3 linked regions of the Homo sapiens genome follow. The protein of the gene in region 3 interacts with the protein of the main gene of each other region in a biochemical or structural test. Each region holds a gene or a part of one and is shown on either strand. Other genes may lie near its edges. The genes, in order: NFIB, IFT172 and LHX3.

What was found.
Region 1: the proteins of LHX3 (region 3) and NFIB form a complex in vitro, tested with the Homo sapiens proteins (one study listed by BioGRID).
Region 2: the proteins of LHX3 (region 3) and IFT172 form a complex in vitro, tested with the Homo sapiens proteins (one study listed by BioGRID).

The regions. Positions count from the first base shown.
Region 1 is NC_000009.12:14,115,115-14,118,766, reverse strand, and holds part of NFIB (nuclear factor 1 B-type), read left to right. Parts: intron 1-2,420; coding exon 2,421-2,559; coding exon of another isoform or gene 2,560-2,586; intron 2,587-3,652.
Region 2 is NC_000002.12:27,448,211-27,451,862, reverse strand, and holds part of IFT172 (intraflagellar transport protein 172 homolog), read left to right. Parts: intron 1-1,766; coding exon 1,767-1,865; intron 1,866-2,062; coding exon 2,063-2,172; intron 2,173-2,300; coding exon 2,301-2,364; intron 2,365-2,482; coding exon 2,483-2,569; intron 2,570-2,831; coding exon 2,832-2,948; intron 2,949-3,652. UniProt on the Homo sapiens protein: Required for the maintenance and formation of cilia. Plays an indirect role in hedgehog (Hh) signaling, cilia being required for all activity of the hedgehog pathway.
Region 3 is NC_000009.12:136,198,832-136,202,172, forward strand, and holds part of LHX3 (LIM/homeobox protein Lhx3), read right to left. Parts: intron 3,197-3,341; coding exon of another isoform or gene 3,190-3,196; intron 2,844-3,189; exon of another isoform or gene 2,380-2,843; coding exon of another isoform or gene 2,334-2,379; intron 1,923-2,333; coding exon 1,751-1,922; intron 1,050-1,750; coding exon 847-1,049; intron 229-846; coding exon 77-228; intron 1-76. UniProt on the Homo sapiens protein: Transcription factor.

The sequences.
Region 1 (3,652 bases), about 120 Mb from region 3:
AAAAGAAAAACTAGCAACAAAAAAACTCTCAGGATTTTGTATAATAGGAACCGTGTATAAAGTAGAATAATCCTTTCCTAATGCTGTTAGCTTCACCTTCAGACAAGACATCTCTCTTTTCTATCTACAGTATGAAAGTTCATCTATTAACAGCCTTAAAAGATAGAAATTTTTAGTGTAGCTTCATCTGTTTGAACCAGTAGAAAACTGAGGAGAAAATAGCCCTCAATTCTTCTCACCCTGAGTTTTAGGAAAGTTGTCTGCATTGACTTGGGAATTCTTTCTTTGTCACCTTTATTCTTTTCAAATGAGAGAAGTGTCTACTAGTTCATGTTGTTCAATTCCAGTAGGTGAAGTTTGTAGAATGGTCAGGGTAGGATAATATATTTGGTGGCAGCATTTCCTTGAAATTATTGTCATTCTGCTCCAGACATTTTGTTCCAGGTAGGTACTTTCAGACTGTTTTGGTGAACACTGTATGTAGAAACATTTTTACCATTGAATGTACCACCAATGATAAAATGAGACCTGTCTTCTTTCTTAAGATATTTAAAGCACTTATTTCCAGTGTTCAGATAACCAGAAATGGATGGCCTGCTGTAGAAACAAACTACTTTTTCCCTTTGAAAGGAAAAATGGGTCTTTATAGTTAACTGCAGATTTTTTTTTTAAGGAACAGTGTATCTGCTTTGATTTTTAACTCCAACTCAAAACCAATTAATTTGCATTTCAAATTAGAATTCTTGGTATTTACCATTTTAGCTTTAGAAATGGAAAAACATCAGTATTCCTTCACCATTCACTTCTAGTCAGCTGTTGCTTCCCAATATTCTCCAGCACTGCACTGATTTTGATTTTTAAGATAAGCAACTGAGATGCCTTTTCCTCCCCACAGCAATTTTGAGATTAATTGCATTACTGCTGCACCAATTATAGTGAGACAGTCATGCTATTCAATGGAATATTTTGAATAAAATTAGTTTAAAGATGTAACTCTCCCATAGGTTTCCATATTGGAAAACTCTGGTCAATTTTCCTGACATCAAGTTAAATACTTAAAATTACCCATGATGAATAATCAGGATATTCAGGAAGTCCATTTTCTTTATAGAATAAATAATGTGGCCTCTGAGGAGCCTAACCGAAGACTTAGTTCATGTCTCTAAGTCACAATATTTAAGTGTTATTAGCTGTTCATCTTTTTCTCTAAATAAATGTCTACTTGTAATTTATGTGCAGATATTTAGAAAAATATTCTGCTTCATTTTTTTTTTGCCTTTAACAGTTCAGATTATAAAGACTATATACTTGCCGAGAATAGCCTCCCAGCAAATTGCGATGAACACCGTGCAGTGGAGAATTCCAACATGGGTATAATCAAAAATAACATTCTCAGTCTAGAAAAATATATTCCACTATTTCTTCAAAGAGTGTATCCTTAGGATTTTGTTTCCTACCACGGAAACTATTTTTGTACCCAGGAGCTAAAACTCAGATAGTAACATCTTTTCTATCATTGCCCAGGGGATTTTCTCAGTTAATTCTCACAAATGTCAACAAGAAATGTTTTGTGTAACTCTCCATGCACCACCATGGATGTAAGAGTAACTCAAATAACAATGCTCATTTGCTTGTCCTCTGCTTCCCCTCAGTACAGTTTAATTTACTTTGGAAATCTTTTATTTGTAGGTGTAAGGACAAACGTAGCTCAGCATTTTATATCATTGTATGACCTCTGAAATTTTAGATGCTTTACATCTTATTCTATCTTCTTGTATTAGTAAATCATCAAAAGTTGACCATAGATCTCGGAATCTAAATTGCCTAATGTGTGCATCTCAGCACACCTGTGTGTAAGAGAGCTAGAGTTTTGTATGCAGGAGAATGGTTCTTGACTGTAAATGATGAAAATTCCAGAATTCGTTGTATTTGATCTCCTAGATATTTTTGTGTCCTTTGTTTCAGTGATATCATCATGTAGGTGAAAATTGTGTTCTAAAAGCCAAAACTGACTCATTATAGAAAATGAAGAGCAGAGAATAAGGAAGCATTGGGTTCCAACTGTAGCTAGTTCAGTAAGGAATTCCATTTTAGCCTTTGGGCTAAGCATTTAAGTCTGCACTTGAGTTTCTTGGCCTACTACATGAAAGGATCAAGTCTACCTGGCTCTCAGGGGTGCTGTAAAGAGGAATTCACCTATACCATGACGTGCTTTGAAGATGAAAACCTTCTTTGAAATGCTGCTGCTCCTTATTACTACCAACCATTGACTGGCCTCTCCGACTCCGACTCGAGAGGGCCTGTGTGGCGCCTATGCGCAGTGTGCTGGATCCACACAGTCGTGTGTGCTGAGTGGACTTGTTGAACAAGATGACTGCCTTTTGGATTGCTTCACCCGGCATTCTGTTTTTGTTTTGTAGCCTAACGGCAGTGGTCAAGTAGTAGGGAAAGTGCCTGGCCATTTCACTCCTGTCTTGGCACCCTCTCCCCATCCCAGTGCAGTGCGACCTGTGACCCTGAGCATGACAGATACTAAACCCATCACTACATCCACTGAAGGTGAGGCAGCTTCACCTACAGCAACCAGTAAGTATTTCCATAGGAAATGAGAAATGTCCATCAGAGGCACCATTGGATATCTGATCCAAGGTGGAAAACACGGCAATTTTTCCAGCTACCTGACCAGATGGAGATTTCTCATTTAAGTGGAGCTAGCAGGCATGGATGTGGCCCTGCTATCACAGGCTCTCTCTTCTCAAATTCCAGTCAGTGAATCATATTTGAAAAGGGAGAAGCTCACTTGTTTAAGTTAACAGCTATAACAAAAATAATAAGTCATGCCTGCTTGTTCAAGGTATACATTGAAATTGCACTGAGTAACATAACGCAGAATACAAAGTTTTCGTATCACCCAAAGAGAGATTAGGTAATTGGTACTTATTGGAGCATTCCTATAGAAATCAAGCCCCTTCACAAAGCAGATGGAATCAGTGCCTCTGTAAGGTAATTGCATGTTTACATCATTGTAGGTTATGTCATTGTTAAAAACAGTCGCATAAGGTTGGGAACAGATGAGGACATTTCAAAACTTAGTATTAGGCACATGTAAGCTACCTGTACTTTCACTATCTGCAAGCTTTTTTTTTAAAACCTTTTGATTATTTTGCTTATCATTGGTACATCAAATACTGTGCTTTTTAGTGTGGCCATAACATTTAAATGTCAGAGATTTAGCCAGTGAACCTTCCTAACACGTACCAATAAGCCGCATCATTCCTTTGTTTTTTCATGTAAAATACTTAGAAGTATAGAAGAAATTAATTTTGAGGTGGTTTCACCCAACTGTCAGCTTCTTAGTACTGGAGCTGGAATGTACAAATTGGTGAAGTAGAATGGATAAAGCTATCGAATTGGTGGAATTAGCATGCACCTCACCAATTATACAGATATCTTCAATTCAAACCTTTTTTTTTTCTTTCTTAGAGCAAGAAAATCCCCATGATCTTGAAATTTCCATGTGAATCAGAGACAATCAGAGGCATGCACCACTCATTCTTTCTCAGCCATTGGAAAGATGCTCTTTTTTTTTTATGGTTTCTGAAAGACTAGGAAGGAACCCTATAAGAAAAATGGACAATACTTTGTACAGTGA
Region 2 (3,652 bases), on a different chromosome or scaffold from region 3:
CTCTAAATGACATATTCGTATGGTGATGCCCCTGCAAAATTTCCCTTAGGTTTTGAGGTTTTTTTGTTTGTTTGTTTATTTTGTTTGTTTGTTTTTTGAGACGGAGTCTTGCTCTGTCGCCCAGGCTGGAGTGCAGTGGTGCAATCTCGGCTCACTGCAAGCTCCGCCTCCTGGGTTTAGGCCATTCTCCTGCCACAGCCTCCTGAGTAGCTGGGACTACAGGTGCCCACCATCATGCCGGGCTAATTTTTTTGTATTTTTTTAGTAGAGACGGGGTTTCACCGTGTTAGCCAGGATGGTCTCCATCTCCTGACCTCATGATCCACAAGCCTTGGCCTCCCAAAGTGCTGGGATTACAGGCGTGAGCCACCGTGCCTGGCCTTTTGAGGTCTTAAAACTCAATAACCCCTAGAAGTTAGAGGGAGAGAAGTAGAAAGAGAGGGGCTGATGATTGGTTTTGAGGTTCTAGCAGATTTTAATCAGCAGTATTGAATAAGCATCTGATATATGTAACTTGGGAGCATGGCATGACTGTACCTTTTTCAGATTAGTCAGAAAATGGCTTCCTGATGCAGACAGGGCAGATTAAGCTTTGAAGGGCTTGGCAGTAAGAAAGGGAGGCAAGAACAGGTGAGGGAAAGACCAGAGGGGATTAGCATAAACTACAGTGAAATTGGATTGTGTGGAAATTGAAATCTGGTAAGGATGTCAGCATCATAATGGAAACAGAGTGATCTCATTGAACACTTGGGTTTGTAGAATTTCTGAGTTTTAAGTGTTGAAAGGTTATCATCAAGACCATCTATACCAGCACTGGCACTAGAAATATAATGCAGGCCACAAATGTAAGCCATACATGTCATTTAAATTTTCTAGTAGCCACATTTAAAAAGAGTAAAAAAAAAAAAAAACAGGTAAAAATAATTGTAATATATTTTATTTAACACAGTATATCTAAAATACACCATTTCATCTGGGCGCAGTGGTACATGCCTGTAATCCCAGAACTTTGGGAGGCCACGGTGGGCAGATCACTTGAGGATCAGGAGTTTGAGACCAGCCTGGCCAACATGGTGAAACCCCATCTCTACTAAAAATACAAAAATTAGCTGGGCATGGTGGTGGGTGCCTGTAATCCCAGCTACTCAGGAGGCCAAGACAAGAGAATTGCTTGAACCTGGGAGGGAGAGGTTGCAGTGAGCTGATATTGTGCCACTGCACTCCAGCCTGGGCGACATAGCAAGACTCTGTCTTAAAAAAATTAAATAAAATACTACCATTTCAACATGTACTCACACACATTATTTAGATATTTTCCATTCTTTTTTTATACTAAATCTTCAAAATCCAGTGTGTGTGAATGAAGAAACAAGTTCATAAAAGCCCAACACAAATAGTTACAGAATGCCCTGGACTCCTTATTTTAGGAGTCCTTTCTCTGTACTCTGCTACGAAGATTTTACTTATGACAAAGACCTTGAAAATGATTTTGTCAAAGGCGGAAGTTTCAAATGCAGTGACCTCAGGCAGCGCAGGAAGTATCTGAAAGAGTTAATGAACTGAGAGGAAAGATAGGTCCACTGATGGCTAATCAAAGGATCTAATGGACCATGAGCCAGGTTTTGCCCAGGAGGGTGCAAGGTTGAAGGGGAGAGTAAGAGAAAAAGTTGGCATCTGGAGGAGAAAAATGTATGAAATGGATGAGGCTGAGGACTCAGCGGTATTTGTCTCTCCTACCCATTTCCATCTTCTGTTCAACCACTCAGGCAGCTGAACTCTCCATCAAGTTTCTGCCTCCCCAACGTAATATGGAAGTCGTTCTGGCTGTAGGACCCCAGCTGATTGGAATTGGAAAGCACAGTGCAGTAAGTAGGATGCTGAGATGGAACAGAAATAGATTTCACAGAGATGGGTGCAAGGGTGACATCTACACCCAGGAAGGTGTGTGAGGTGGGCCTCCTGGTGGGCATGGCTTGCAGTCCTGGGGAAACAGATGGGAGAGCTCACAGTGGGAAGACTGGGAGCGAGGAGAAAGTCTCCACGCTGATTTCCCACTGTGCAGGCTGCAGAGCTCTATCTGAATCTGGACCTTGTCAAGGAAGCAATCGATGCTTTCATCGAGGGTGAGGAGTGGAACAAGGCGAAGCGTGTAGCTAAGGAGTTAGATCCCAGGTAAGCTTGTAACCCCTTCTTACTGCGAAATTCTCTTTTACTTCCTTTTGTAAAGACTGGGAGAAAGTCTTACCGGGAGGGTTGGTATTCTGGAACATGAAGATGGAGCTCTCTGAACATCTTCACAGGTATGAAGACTATGTGGACCAGCATTATAAAGAGTTCCTCAAGAATCAGGGCAAAGTGGACTCGGTGAGACTTGGAGAGTTAGCAGGAGGCAGAATGCAGGGAGAGACTCACAAGACTCTCTCCCTCTTCTTTCCCTCATGTCATCTCTTTTCTCTTGTAACTCTGTCTTCCATTGACCCAGCTGGTGGGTGTGGATGTGATAGCTGCTTTGGACCTGTATGTGGAGCAGGGCCAGTGGGACAAGTGCATTGAAACAGCTACCAAGCAGGTACTGCTCTCTTCCCATTCCCAGTTTTTCTTTACATTTTCCCTTGATTCCCCACCTGCCTCAAAGATGCATCTCTTCTACCTCCACAAAAACCCAAAGCCCAAAGATTTCTAATGGGCATCAGAGAAGCTCAGTCTGAAACTGGGGTCAGAGGTTTGCGTACACCCTTTTTCCCCTCAACAAATACATGGCCTCAAGTCACCTCACTGCTTGGTCTTGCCGATCCCAGCCTCACTCATGCTTTTCCTCCACCCCTGTACAGAACTACAAGATTCTGCACAAGTATGTGGCTTTGTATGCAACTCACTTGATCCGGGAGGGTAGCTCTGCCCAGGCATTGGCCCTGTATGTACAGCACGGAGCCCCTGCTAACCCACAGGTACCAGCCTTCTCCTTGGGTTGAATGTTTCCACAAGAAAGCTCTTTCTCCTCTAGAACCACCTATCTTCTCAGGAACTATCTTCTCAGAGGATTCTATCCTTAGAGAACGTCATGCCCAGAGCCCCCCACGCATCTCCAGAAATGTACAGCCTCTCTGGAGGCTGTGTATTTGCTAAGAGCATGGGGAGGTTTGCAGAAACTTCCAACTTCTGTTTGAAGAAACACCCGTGGAGCTCCCCATGCTGTTAGCAAATACACAGGCACCTGTCTTTCAGAGATGAATCCTGCATACACCTCTAGGGCCTTTATTGACTTCCTCCAGAGAATGAACACTGCTCCCTGATCTGAGTCACAATGTTGTGACTCTGCATTTACATTTGTACAGTTGCCCACACTCACACAGCACCAGCTAAGAAAGTTATTTCTTCCTCTTTTCTCTTTATCAAAAATAATCAGCACTTAAAAATAATTTACTTCATTAAAAATAATCAGCACTTAATAATCTGCCACTGTTGGCCGGGCGCAGTGGCTCACGCCTGTAATCCCAACACTTTGGGAGGCCGAGGCAGGCGGATTACGAGGTCAGGAGATCGAGACCATTGTGGCTAACACGGTGAAACCCCGTCTCTACTAAAAATATAAAAAGTTAGCTGGGCGTGGTGGCAGGCACCTATAGTCCCAGCTACTCGGGAGGCTGAGGCA
Region 3 (3,341 bases):
GCGGGGTGAGCGGCCGCCCGGCTCTGCGGGGGCCCCCAAGGCCGCGGGCGGGAGGGAAGCAGGGGCGAGCGCTGACCTGCACCACGCGCATGTCCAGGCCCGTCTCGGACGAGAGCTGCTCGCGCACGTGGCGCGCCGGCTTGGGCGAGGTGTTGTAAGCGCTCTTCAGCGTCTCCAGCTGCTTGGCGGTGATGGTCGTGCGCGGCCGCTTGGCCGTGGCCTCGGCCTCTGCGCGGCGGGCGAGCGGTGAGGCGCGGCAGCCCCTCCGGCCCCGGCCGGACCCCCAGCCCTCCCACCCCGGCCGGCGCGGGGACGTCGGGGCCTCAGGTGCCCACCCCCATCCCGCCCCACAGGCTTCTCGGAAGGCGCGGGCGCTGGGAGCGATTGGCAAAAACGGGCAGCACCCGGGCTGGGGTGGAGGGGGCGCCGGCGGAGGGCGGGTTCTGCCGCGGGGGCGGGGGCGGCGCCTTCCCTAAAATCGCACCTCCACGGCGCCCCCGCCTTCAGCCTTGGCTCCCTTCTCCAAGCACCCTGATTTCCCCGCGGGCTCCCCTTTATTCTAAGGGTGTGGGTATGGCCCAGCCTTCGCGGCCAAGAATTTAGGGCGATAATTCCGACCAGGGGCGAAAAGCCGCACACTTCGGACCGAACGAAGCGGTTCGGGACGCGGGTCTGTCCGTGACTCCGCCGTTCCCGGCCTCGGCTTCCTGCTGCCTACACCGCCCTAGCCCAGGCCCCCTTAGTGAGCGCTTGGGGAGAGAATTTCCCCGGACGCCCCCCTGGGCGTGGCCTCAGCCCCATTTTTTTCAGACCAGGAAAGGTGGGAGCGTCGTCCCCTCGGCTGACCTCGCTGCTTGGCGGTTTCGTAGTCCGCCTTGCACACGAGCCGGCTGTCCTCCATGAGGTAGAACTCGTCGCCCGTGGCCAGCTGCCGCTTGCACACGACGCAGGCAAAGCAGTGCAGGTGGTACACGAAGTCCTGGGCGCGGCGCACCACCTGCGTGGGCGGGATGCCCAGCTGGCACGCGGCGCACTTGGTCCCGAAGCGCCTGCGGGACGCACAGGGCCGGGCTCAGCGCGGAAGCGCGAGGCTCATTTCGCCCCGAGCGGGTTGGAGAGAGGCAAGCGGCTGCCTGGGAAGGCGGCCCCGGAGGAAGGCTCTGTCCGGCCCTGCAGGGTGGTCGCCAGCCTGGCCGCCGGGGCAGAGCTGCCCACTCCCACTGAGAAGGGAACCTCAATCTCAGAAAGACCTCGGGGAGCCCAGCCGCCATTGCCTGCAGGACCCATGCTGGATCTGGGAAGGTGAATCCGGAGGGAGAGGACCCATCTGGGGCCAGTCCCTCACACCCCACAGCTGGAGCCATGAAGGCCACTGGGCCAGAGCCGCTGGGTGCCAGCATTAGGAACTAAAACATCACCAATTTCGGAGGAACTAAGTCCAGTAGAATCCTACAAATAGGGGTGTATCTTCTCTAATGACTGCTTCTGTGATTTAGGTAATAAATTGCTTTTTTTTCCAAATAATACTTGCTGATGTCCCAGCCAGGCCCAGCCACCCAGGGAGCACCCATGGAGAGGCCCCACCCTTAATTTGGCCAGGCCACAGGGTGCCCTGCCTGGGTGACAGGAGTGGGCTGGGATTGCGAGAGACGCAGGCTTCGAGGGCCTGGCCTTGGTGATTGTGAGGGGAGGAGTCCCTGGGGCAGGCGTGCCCTCCGCTCCCACACTGAGGTGAGGTTTCGGGGCTCACTTGAAAAAGTCGTCCTTGCAGTAAACGCTCTCCCCTCGGCTGAAGCAGCGCTCGGCCAGTGGCGTGTGGCAGTCGCTGCACTTGAGACACTTGCTGTGCCAGTGGCGGTCCAGAGCCTTGAGGATGAAGCGGTCCAGGATGTGCTGGTCACAGCCAGCGCACAGCGGGATCTCTGTGGGCACGAGGAAGTTCTGGGTCACCTCGTAGACCAGGAGGCAGTGAAGCCACCTTCCCACCCCAACGCGAGCCAGTCTCCCCTCCGGCCCACAGGACTCAGGGCTGCCGAGGGGTCCTCCTTTCCCTACACACCCTCTTCCCCAGCCAGCTTAAGTGGCCCCGCAAGTTCCGGGAGTGTGCAGGCACCGCATCCTATGTCAGGAGCTAAGGGGAAACTGACATCGGTCTAAAAATGTGTGTGAGCAAGAAAGCAGCCCAGGCCATTTCACGAGGCTGAATACTCAATTACAAAATGTTGCCAGTGCCAAGAAGGGTGCATGTGGAGCTCAAATGAAAACCCCACCCCAGGGGGATCTGCTCTCTGAAGCCCGGCAGGAAACATAGGGAAACGGGTCTTCACCATCACCTGGAGCTGGGGCACCCCATCGGGTCTCCTTCATGTTAAGCGTCATGGCCACTCTTTCTAGGGACTCCTCGCAAATGTGGCTGCCCTGCCTGGTGGCCCTGTCTGCAGGCCTCCGGGGTAAATATCAATGCCTTCCCCATCATTGGGCAGCCGCAAAATTACTTATGAGTGGACTGGACAAGCCGATCCACTGCCTTTGTGTCAGGCGTGGGTGCCCCCAACACCGTCAGAGTTACTCAAACGTCTGGCTTCCCGCTGCTTCTGCCCCCCACACCCCACTTCGGTACTGCAGGCCCCCTGGAGGAACCACACTGGGGAGGTCCAAGGGTGCCCTGTGGGAGCCTCGAGTCTGTGAGCGGGTTTTCCAGGTGTCAAGGGCTGAGGACTCCCTCTTCACTTAGAAAAAGTCTCTGGAAGAGAGGAGTGCCCGCTGAAGGGACCGGGATTTACTGACATATTGCACCCGCCTCCCTGGCTGTGGACCCCGCCGGCTCCAGCCCATCTCCCAGTGGGTGAGAGACACCAGGAAGGGGCTCCCTCGACCTCCGGCGGAAAAAACTGGGCTGCGCCTCCCCACGCAGTGGCGGGAAACCGGCGATGAATGCGCCCCGCATCCGGCAAAACCGCAGCTCCGGGTGCGGAGCGTCGAGGACCCGCTGCGCGCCCGGGGTCCCCATCGTGGGCAGCGATCGCAGGCGAGGACCCGGCTCGGAGCGGGGCGGCCCGACAGGCCGACACAGCGCGGATTCAGCACCGCGGACCGGACAGCGCCTCGGCCGCAGCTCGCCGCCGGCGCCCGCGTCGGGCAAAAGCCGCCCCAGCCCACCCCGCGCCGCGCCCGCGACCCCAGCCTTACGCTGCATGGCGACTCCAGCCCTGGCGGGGGCTCCTGTGTCAGGGATGGCGGGGTCGGCGGAGCCTGGACGCCAGCCCGCCCGCTCCGGCCAGCTCTCCCGAGCGCGGGCGCGCAGTCCTCCTTCCTCCCTCCCTCTCTCCGCCCCCCAGCCC